2 separate regions of the Homo sapiens genome follow, and region 1 is linked to region 2. The links come from fine-mapping of genetic effects on gene expression. A gene starts in region 2. The other region holds a variant in brackets. All regions are shown on one strand. Distances are between the middles of the regions.

Region 1 (4,386 bases), 44 kb before region 2:
CATCTCGGCTCACTGCAACCTCTGCCTCCCAGGTTCACGCCATTCTCCTGCCTCAGCCTCCCGAGTAGCTGGGACTACAGGCACCCGCCATCACGCCCGGCTAATTTTTTATATTTGTAGTAGAGACGGGGTTTCACTGTATTAACCAGGATGGTCTCGATCTCCTGACCTCATGATCCGCCCACCTCAGCCTCCTAAAGTACTCAGATTACAGGCATGAGCCACCGCGCCCGGCCTAGATGTCACCTCTTGATGAAGGAATGTCAAAGAATTTGTGTCCACATTTTAGAATCACCACGGTAGCCTTATCTGGGTGGCTCATTTCTCTTCTGTATGGCATCACTTGGAATTACACATGCTTTTGTGGTCCCATGACAGGTCACATGCCTGTGTGGTCCCATGGCAGGTCACAGGCCTGTGTGGTCCCATGGCAGGTCAACTGGGGGCTGGCAGATCCCAAATGGTGATTGATGTAAACTGAGATAGTTCAGACTCCCTCAAGTGGCAACTGAACTCCAAAAAAGCAAGCTCCAACGTACAAACATTTCACAAGCTTCTGCTTTCATCACATTTGCTGATGGCCCATTGGCCAAAGCAAGGCACGTGGCCAAGCCCAGAATCAGCACGGAAGGGATTACACAAAAGCATGGACACCGGGCGGGGGGGGGCATGACTCACTGGAGGCCATTGATGTGACAGTCTACCATACCTGGGCAACTCCCATTTATCTTTAAAAGCTCAGTTCATGCCTGGCCTCCAAGAAGCCCTCTCTGACAGATTGGGTCATCACCTGTCCCTCCTCTGGACTCCCACAGTACCCTTTACACGTCTCTACCTCTGTGTCTACCCTCTTTTTTCTAATTATCTATGTATCATTTCTGTTTCCCCCATTGGAACAAGCCTTTGAGATGGTGTTCTACTAATCTTTGTATACCTAGCGTCTAGCCCCGTGCCTTGGAACATTATTGGTACCAATAATGTCTTAATTATTTGGTCAATTAAACCATCCATGAATAAAGTTTTTAAAATAACTATCAAAGATTAAAGTGTCTCCATTGGTGCCTTCTCTCAACTTCTGCCCTGCATTCCAAGAAATAATGTTTAGTTTGTATTTGTCACATTCTCCAACCAAATATGCAGTTCTTCAGGGAGCTGACCTTGCTCAGGAAGTTGACCTCGACTAGAGGTTAGGAGAGGTAGCGGAGTGTAGAGCAGCAGTTCCAAGATATTTTAATTTCATAGACTTAGTCACATTTCCAAAGAAGTGTGAGGGTTAACAGGAAGTTACCAATTTTCTTTTTTTTATATATAAAGTAGGACATTAAAAACCACACATACACACATATCAATACCACCATCTCTTCAGAAAAATGGAAAGGTATAACCTTAGAATGAAAGTATAGGAAAGGCAGGTGTATAGTCTCAATTAGTCAAAGATTAGAGCTCAGTATTATGGCTGCCTTGATATCAGGGAGACCTCAAATGGCCTAATTACAAGATCCCCTCCCTACTTTGCTGATGAGGTCCCCCAGCCAAACCACCCTCCTTATTGTGGGGGCCAGGCACAATTTCTGCTTAACCCTGAGTACTGGGCTTCAGCACCCTGCCAGCCCACAGAATTATGCAAACAGCCAATCACATTCTCTTACAGGAAACGGGGGCATTCCACCGTTTTGACATTACAAAGCCTGCCTCCCACAGCTCCTGGTAATACCTGTTTCTGAGTGCAACTCCCATGAAGCAGTTCATGGCGTGCAGTGTTATCCTCCCAGGTATGAGCATATGTGACTAATAAACTGCTATTGCTCTCATTCGTCCAGTGTTGAGGTCATGTGATCCCCCTAACTTTAGGGGATGGGAATCTCTCCCTCATCAACAGGGTGAAGAACATAAAATCAAAACAAGGTGATAACCTGACAGCTATGTTCAGAGTACCCCGGACTGTCCTCGTTTTACTTATTTCACCGTGAACCAGGGAAATGAGTCTAGCAGAGATCTGAGGGTCCGCCCTGGGAGCACTGGAGAGCACAGTGGGAACATGGAGTCAGGAGACTTAAGATCTAATAGTCCAGACCATGCTTCAAAATATTTGTCTGACCTTGACAAATCATTACCTTTCTCGGGCCTCAAGTCCCAGCTATAAAATAGTGGGGCAAGCCAGGTGCAGTGGCTCCCACCTGTAATCCCAGCATTTTGAGAG[G/C]CCAGGCGGGAGGATTACTTGAGCCCAGGAGTTCAAGATCAGCCTGGGCAACATGGTGAGATCCCATCTCTACAAAAAAAAAAAAAAAAAATTAATTAGCTGGGCATAGTGTCAAGTGCCTATTGTCCCAGCTACTCAGGAGGCTGAGGTAGGAGGATCACTTGAGCCCAGGAGGTCAAAGCTTCAGTGAGTGGTGATTGCACCACTGCACTCTAGCCTAGGCAACAGAGTGAGACCCTGGCTCAAAAATAAAATAAAATAAAATTTAAAAGATGGGACCACTGTAGTCACCTCTGTGATTCTAGAAAGACAATCTGATGAAATGAGGGAATGGCTGGCAGTCCCTAGGTCATGCTAAAGGACTGTGTGTTTTTAGAAGAGTTTTTATCCCCATATGTTTCTGGGTGGGAAAACAGGAGATGGTGGGAAAAGAGAGATCTAAGAGACCAACAGGGCAGCCGCAGTCTTCTGGCAGGAAGTCTTGCCTTAGCTGGATTCCTCTAAAGCCTTGCTGGTTTCAGCACTCCGATCCTATCCACAGTAAATGGAGTTTTAAAATCTCCTCCCTCCACCACCTTGTGCTCTATCCCCTGACCTCAGATGTCTAATCAGAGCCATTAATTCCATCCAATCAGAGATCTTGCTTGGCAGACACAGAATTGCCACACCTTCTACAGTCTATACTCCCCTCCCCTGCCTAAAAGCAAGGTGCTTGGGGACCCAGAAATTAGGCCAGGTCCTCATAACCTTATCAAAATAGCACTGCTAGGCCTTCCACCCAGCAACACTCAGAGACAGGGCCAAAGAGTGGGAAACGGAGCATCCAGGGCCTCAGCCAGCAGAGCCCAGATGCCTTCTGCAGTTAAGATCCCTGGACTCAGAATCAGAAAGCTGTTAAGCAGGAAGGAGTGCGCTGCCATGAAGAGGCAGACAGAAGCCAGAGCCAGTGTGTCTGGAATGCATCAGGTAGATGAATGGGAAGATGGCTGGGATGGAGTTGGAGGGAGGAGGGAAGTCAGCAGCCAGGGGCCAGGACATTCATGGCCTTAAAAAGTATCCTACAAACAAGAAGCCAGGTTAGCTCACCTATGAAGAGGGACAGTCTTACCAGATCATGTGTTAGAGTCCCCAGATCCTGGGGAGCGTGAGAAAAGTGCAGACTCAGCTGGCTCTAGTACTAGATTAAGGAGGTCCTAGGTGGGCAAGGCCAGCTGCATTTTTCATAAAATGCCCTAGAAACCTCTGCAGTTTACCAAAGTGAATAGCTCCTTTGGACTTAACCATCTGCAAGGCTCATTCCAGTTAGAGTGTTCCATCACCCTAAATGCTGGGAAACCAAGCGAATCTCCTCCCACTTGCAAGCTTCCAACAGTGGCTTCCAACAGTGCCACTGCAGTATCAGAAACTGCAGGGAAGGTGCCAGGGCTGACTTCCATGAAGAAATAGGAGAACAGGCAGGCAGACATTGGGGAGGCCCACAGAATGTCGTGATCAGAATTCATAAAGAGGCTGGCAGGATACAAATCAATCAAATAAACGTTAGTTCAAAAAAATTCACTACACCTGTGAGTGAGAGAAAGTCATCAGCACTGTCTCTAAAAATGAGCCTAGGGCTTCTGGTGACATCCAATCGGTGGGTTATCAGGAGTGCCCCAGGTGATCAGGAGTTGGCCTCGACTCAGTCCTTTTTGTGCTGTCTCCTCCTCTTTCCCAGAGTTCCTCTCTCTCTTCTCCCACTAGGCAGGGATGAGCAAGAGGAATGGCTCACCCTTGAGAGCTGGGGTCCATAGCCCAGGTCAGTTCTCCAGCTCTCCCACTTACCAGCCAAGACAGGAGGTGAGGATTGAGATGGGATGAACCCAGCAGGCGGCCATGGGTTAAAGGTCGCCATGAATGTAATGTGCCCAGCACAGTGCCTGCTAAAAGGCAACACTCCCTTCCTGGTCTGAAGACCAAACAAGCAGACTGTACTCAGGAAAGCCAGAAGAACCTTCCAGCTGTCTGGACCAGAAGGTGCCAGCCCAGGGGCTGAAGAAGACGTAATGCCCAGAGCAAAAAGCGCCTGCAGCCCCCTGAAGGGCTGGGTGCTCTGGAATAGATGAGGGGGCGAAATGGGGCTGGGGACCAGGGACGGACAGGGTGGGTCCAGCACCTGCCTCGCTTCCGAAGGGCTGCTCCAACACTGA
Region 2 (4,386 bases):
AACCTCTGCCTCCCAGGTTCAAGCGATTATCCTACCATAGCCTTCCCCTCCTCAGTTAAAGTTCAGGTGAAAAATTCCTCCCTCCTCCCCACACTGCCTAATTCATCAGAAAATCCTGTTAGTCCACATTCAAAATACTTCCAAAATCCACCACTTTGCATCACCTGTCCTGCTACCACACTAACCAGACGCTCACAATGACCTCCTAAATGGTCTCCCGCTTCTGCTCTCTTCAGAGCTGTTCTCTACACAGTAGCAAAAGGTATTTTGTTAAAACAAAAATCAGATCCGTGTCCCTCCTCTGCTCAAAACAAACTTGTCCAACCCACAGTATGCAGGCCACATGTGGCCCAGGATGGCTTTGAATGTGGCCCCACACAAATTCGTAAACTTTCTTAAAACATTATGAGTTTTTTTTAAAGCTCATCAGCTATCTTTAGTGTTAGTGTATTTTATGTGTGGCCCAAAACAATAATTCTTCTTCTACCATAACCCAGGGAAGCCAAAAGATTGGACAACCCTGTTTCAAAACCTTCCAGTAGCTTCATAAAAGCCAAAGTCCTCAGAATGGCCTTGGGGACCTACAGGCTGGGTCCTTCTCTGACCTCTCTGATCGCGTCTCCCACTCTTTCCCTATCTTTCTCTCTCTTCACTCCAGCCACATTGACTTTGTTCTTCCTCGAAAGTGGCAGGTCGCTCCCACCTCAGGACCTTTACTTTTACTCTTCTCTCTGCCTAGAACATTCTTTCCCCACATTTATGTGTAGTTCACGCCTAGCCTCCCTCAGGTCACTTGAATGTTACCTTCTCCGAACGCACCTCCTCCTTGCTTGATGTGCCCCATAGCTCTTAGCATCATCTAACATATTACATATTCTACTTATTTAGTCCTGCTTCTACTAGAATGTAAGCTCCCTGAGGGCAGGGATTGTGCCTGTTTTGTTCCCTGCTATATCCCCAGTTTCTAGAAGAGTGACTGGCATGTCCAATATCCATCTGTAAAATGAAGTGATGGAATGAGGGCCCTAAGGAAATATAACATGGTGAAACCCCATCTCTACTAAATACAAAAAATTAGCTGGGGCCGGGTGCAGTGGCTCACACCTGTAATCCCAGCACTTTGGGGGTCTGAGGCTGGTGGATCACCTGAGGTCAGGAGTTCAAGACCAGCCTGACCAACACGGTGAAACCCTGTCTCTACTAAAAATTCAAAAATTAGCCAGGCGTGGTGGTGGGCTCCTGTAATCCCAGCTACTCGGGGGAGGCTGAGGCACAAGAATCACTTGAACCCGGGAGGAGGAGGTTGCAGTGAGCCGAGATTATGCCATTGCACTCCAGCCTGGACAACAGAGCAAGACTCTATAAAAAAAAAATCGGCCTGGCGTGGTGGCGCACGCCTGTAATCCCAGCTACTTGGGAGGCTGAGGCAGAATTGCTTGAACCTGGAGGTTGCAGTGAGCTGAGATCGCGCCATTGCACTCCAGCCTTGGCAACAAGAGCGACGACACTCCGTCTCAAAAAAACAAAAAACAAAAACAAAAACAAAACAAGAGTTGAAATCAAGAAGGGAATCGTGCCTTGGACAAGAACAGGGGTGCCTCTTTCACTGCTCCTGATAAGAATGGATTCAGACATGTTTGTAGGTAGAAATTTAAGAATTCCCCTCTTGATTGCGTCTGATTTCTCTGGGAAATAGAAGAGAAGGAAGGACTTGAGGAGAGTAGCGATGGAGAGAGAGATCTATGGTGAAGATGGGAGGAGTTAACGGCAGCTGCAAGGGTTGATGGAGCAGCTGAAGTTGAAAACCTGGATTCGCCTTGGTACCCAGCTACCTGGTTGTGCGATTTTCCTCATCAACATCGGGGGAGTCGGGAGAAGGTTACATAAAAGGAATGGGAGCAGCAAAAATTCAAGTTTTGTCTCGGCTTTTTCTTGAAAAGACCAAAGAGAATTCTTTCATTGACTCAGTGCCTCCGTTTACCCACTCAGGCATTCATCACTAATCACTGGTCCCATGAAAGTAAAATGAGCGGAGAGTGTCTTTGACAGCAGAGAAAAAGAGAAGAGGCTGAGGAACAGGACCTCCCCCAGCCCAGTGAGAAGGGGAGTGGGGGACGTTTAGCCTTCCCTAAAAACTGAAAGTTGATACGCCCCAGGGCTCAAGTTCCGAGCCTTCTCCCATGACGCCTCTTCTTTCCCAATACCTTCCAGCTGCCCCGTCGTGTGACATTCCAGTCCACCTCTGTTCCTGCTCCACCCGCTCCAAACTCGCGTGCTTTTCCTCCACGTGGTTCTCTGTGTATATCGGTTGCCTGGGTGGCCCCAGCCGGAGGCCGGGCTCTAATGACGCCACAGTAGGAACAAGCCAATAGCCGTGACGCGACTCAGTGACGCGAGACGCGGGGTGTGGCTCTGCCGGCCCAGGCGCGATGAGGCGGCTGCCCGCTGGGTGGCGCCGATTTCCCGGGGAGGTCCCTTCTGGGCCCCCGGCGGAGGTGGGAGAGAGTCAGGCAGGAGCCGAGGCCGGGGAGCCCTCTTCGTCAGCTGGTGCTCACTGCGCCGCGCCAGCGCCAGCCGGGACTCACCCGCAGCTCCATGCTTGTGCCCGGTTCGACTCGTCCATACTCCAAGAAGAGGCAGGTACGTGCCACCTGTCGGGGATCCGGGAGGGGGGATTCGGGGATCAGTGCCGGTTTGGAGCTCAGAAAGTAAGGTGTCCACGACATTCTGGGCAGAGTGGACACTAGAAATATAGGGAGAGAGCCGGCTGTGCAGGGACGCTCCAGCTGTGTCTGCCAGTTGTGTGAGGGCTGCCTGCTGACAGCCCAGGGTGCCAGGAAGAGCCAACTGTGTGCTGATCAGTGTATTCTAAGGAAATGCTGCTTTGGCGGGTCCTCCTCGCTGTGCCCCGTGTATATCGGTGGTATGTGGCCTGAGCGACACTGACAAACCCCCTCCCCACGTGTGCGTGCAGCTCACTCGCTGCTCTTAAAGCTCCCCGGTCAGTTTGCTAAAGGGGGTTAGGGGCGGGGGTTGGGCAACAATTAAGCGGAAGGGGAGATTTTCCACCAATCCCAAACCAGAAAGAGGCAGCTTTGAAATTCTCACCAGTCCCAAACCAGAAGCAGGCACGCGGTGCTCCGGAGAGAGCAACTTCTCAACAGTCAAGGGAAGCCCTAGCCAACCCATTCTAGCCCTTCCCTGAAGAGTGAACATCCTACCTCCTGACCTGGCTGCCTTTAGAATGGGACTGAGCTGGAGGTAGTGGTAGGGGCTGCTCACCTCCCCTGGAATGGGCATGAGAACATCCCCCAGATGGACCCCCGTAAAGCAGAGGAAAGGAGAGCTGATTGGGCTAAGGTCGAGGCAGGCCCCCTCCTTTGATGCTGTAGATGCATGTCAGACTGGAGTCAGAATGAGGACTGGAATGAGGGCGTCCTCTGAAGTGCATCATTAGGACCTGGGCTGAGTCAGTAGCCTGTGCTAAGACAGGGTGGAGGCACCAGGCTGGGTACTCCCAGTCCTCGGGGAGAGCCATCGAGAAACGTCCTGGGAGCAGACAAGTGCACCAAGGCCAGAGAGGCTAAGAACCCCGTTCCTTCCTCTTGTGACCCTGCCCAGCCCGGCTCTGTGGCCCTGGAATCCTGAGCCCTCCCACAGGTAGAGTGGAACCACCCCAGAGGGGCCAAGCATTCTCCTGGTGGCCTGGGGGAAGCTGCACTTGCCGTATTTTTCTAGGCAAAGGGGGAAGGAGCCCAGATGGGCTTGGCCTTTCTCTGCTTGGTGGACTGGACGTCTAGGAAGATGGCAAGCCTTGTTTGCCCTTCCCAGTTATGGGACATGGTCAGTTCAGAAAACCAAGGGACTGTTCTCTGGCATTAGAAAGGCACACTTCCGGCCGGGAGCAGTGGCTCAAAGTGCAGTAATCCCAGCACTTTGGGAGGCCAAGGCGGGCGGATCACAAGGTCAGGAAATCGAGACCATCCTGGCTAACACGGTGAAACCCCATCTCTACTAAAATTACAAAAAAATTAGCCGGGCGTGCTGGCGGGAGCCTGTAGTCCCAGCTACTCGGGAGGCTGAGGCAGGAGAATGGCGTGAACCCAGGATGCGGAGCTTGCAGTGAGCCAAGATCGCGCCACTGCACTGCAGCCTGGGCGACGGAGACTCCGTCTCAAAAAAAAAAAAAAAAAAAGAGAAAGGAACACTTCCCCAGGAGTAACCCTCCTTTTCTCCCTAGGAAGGTTCACCTGGTAAGGCGCTATTATTAATAATACCACTAATTATAATAAGAAGTGGAAGTATTCAATATAATCATCAATGTTTATTGAACTCTATGGGCCATGAAATTTACAAATATTATTTTATTTAATCCTCACAACTGAG

Evidence for each region. PIP is the estimated chance that this variant, and not a neighbour inherited with it, causes the effect. A credible set is the group of variants that fine-mapping cannot tell apart.
Region 1: its variant is the best candidate, but not a certain one, in a credible set for the expression of USP2 in fibroblasts (GTEx, PIP 0.78).

What each region holds. Positions count from the first base shown.
Region 1 is chr11:119,423,678-119,428,063 of GRCh38, reverse strand. The region is part of intron 2 of USP2-AS1 (USP2 antisense RNA 1); the gene reads right to left. It also overlaps a transcript of THY1 not described here. Among named protein-coding and RNA genes, the nearest start is that of THY1, 2.7 kb to the right of the region's middle. The variant G/C (reference allele first, on the strand shown) is at 2,201.
Region 2 is chr11:119,379,727-119,384,112 of GRCh38, reverse strand. It overlaps USP2 (ubiquitin specific peptidase 2), which reads left to right and starts at 2,423. Exons shown (of 13, transcript NM_004205.5): 1 at 2,423-2,640. USP2-AS1 (USP2 antisense RNA 1) reads right to left here and starts at 2,335. Exons shown (of 4, transcript NR_034160.1): 1 at 2,205-2,335. RefSeq lists an enhancer at 2,356-3,345.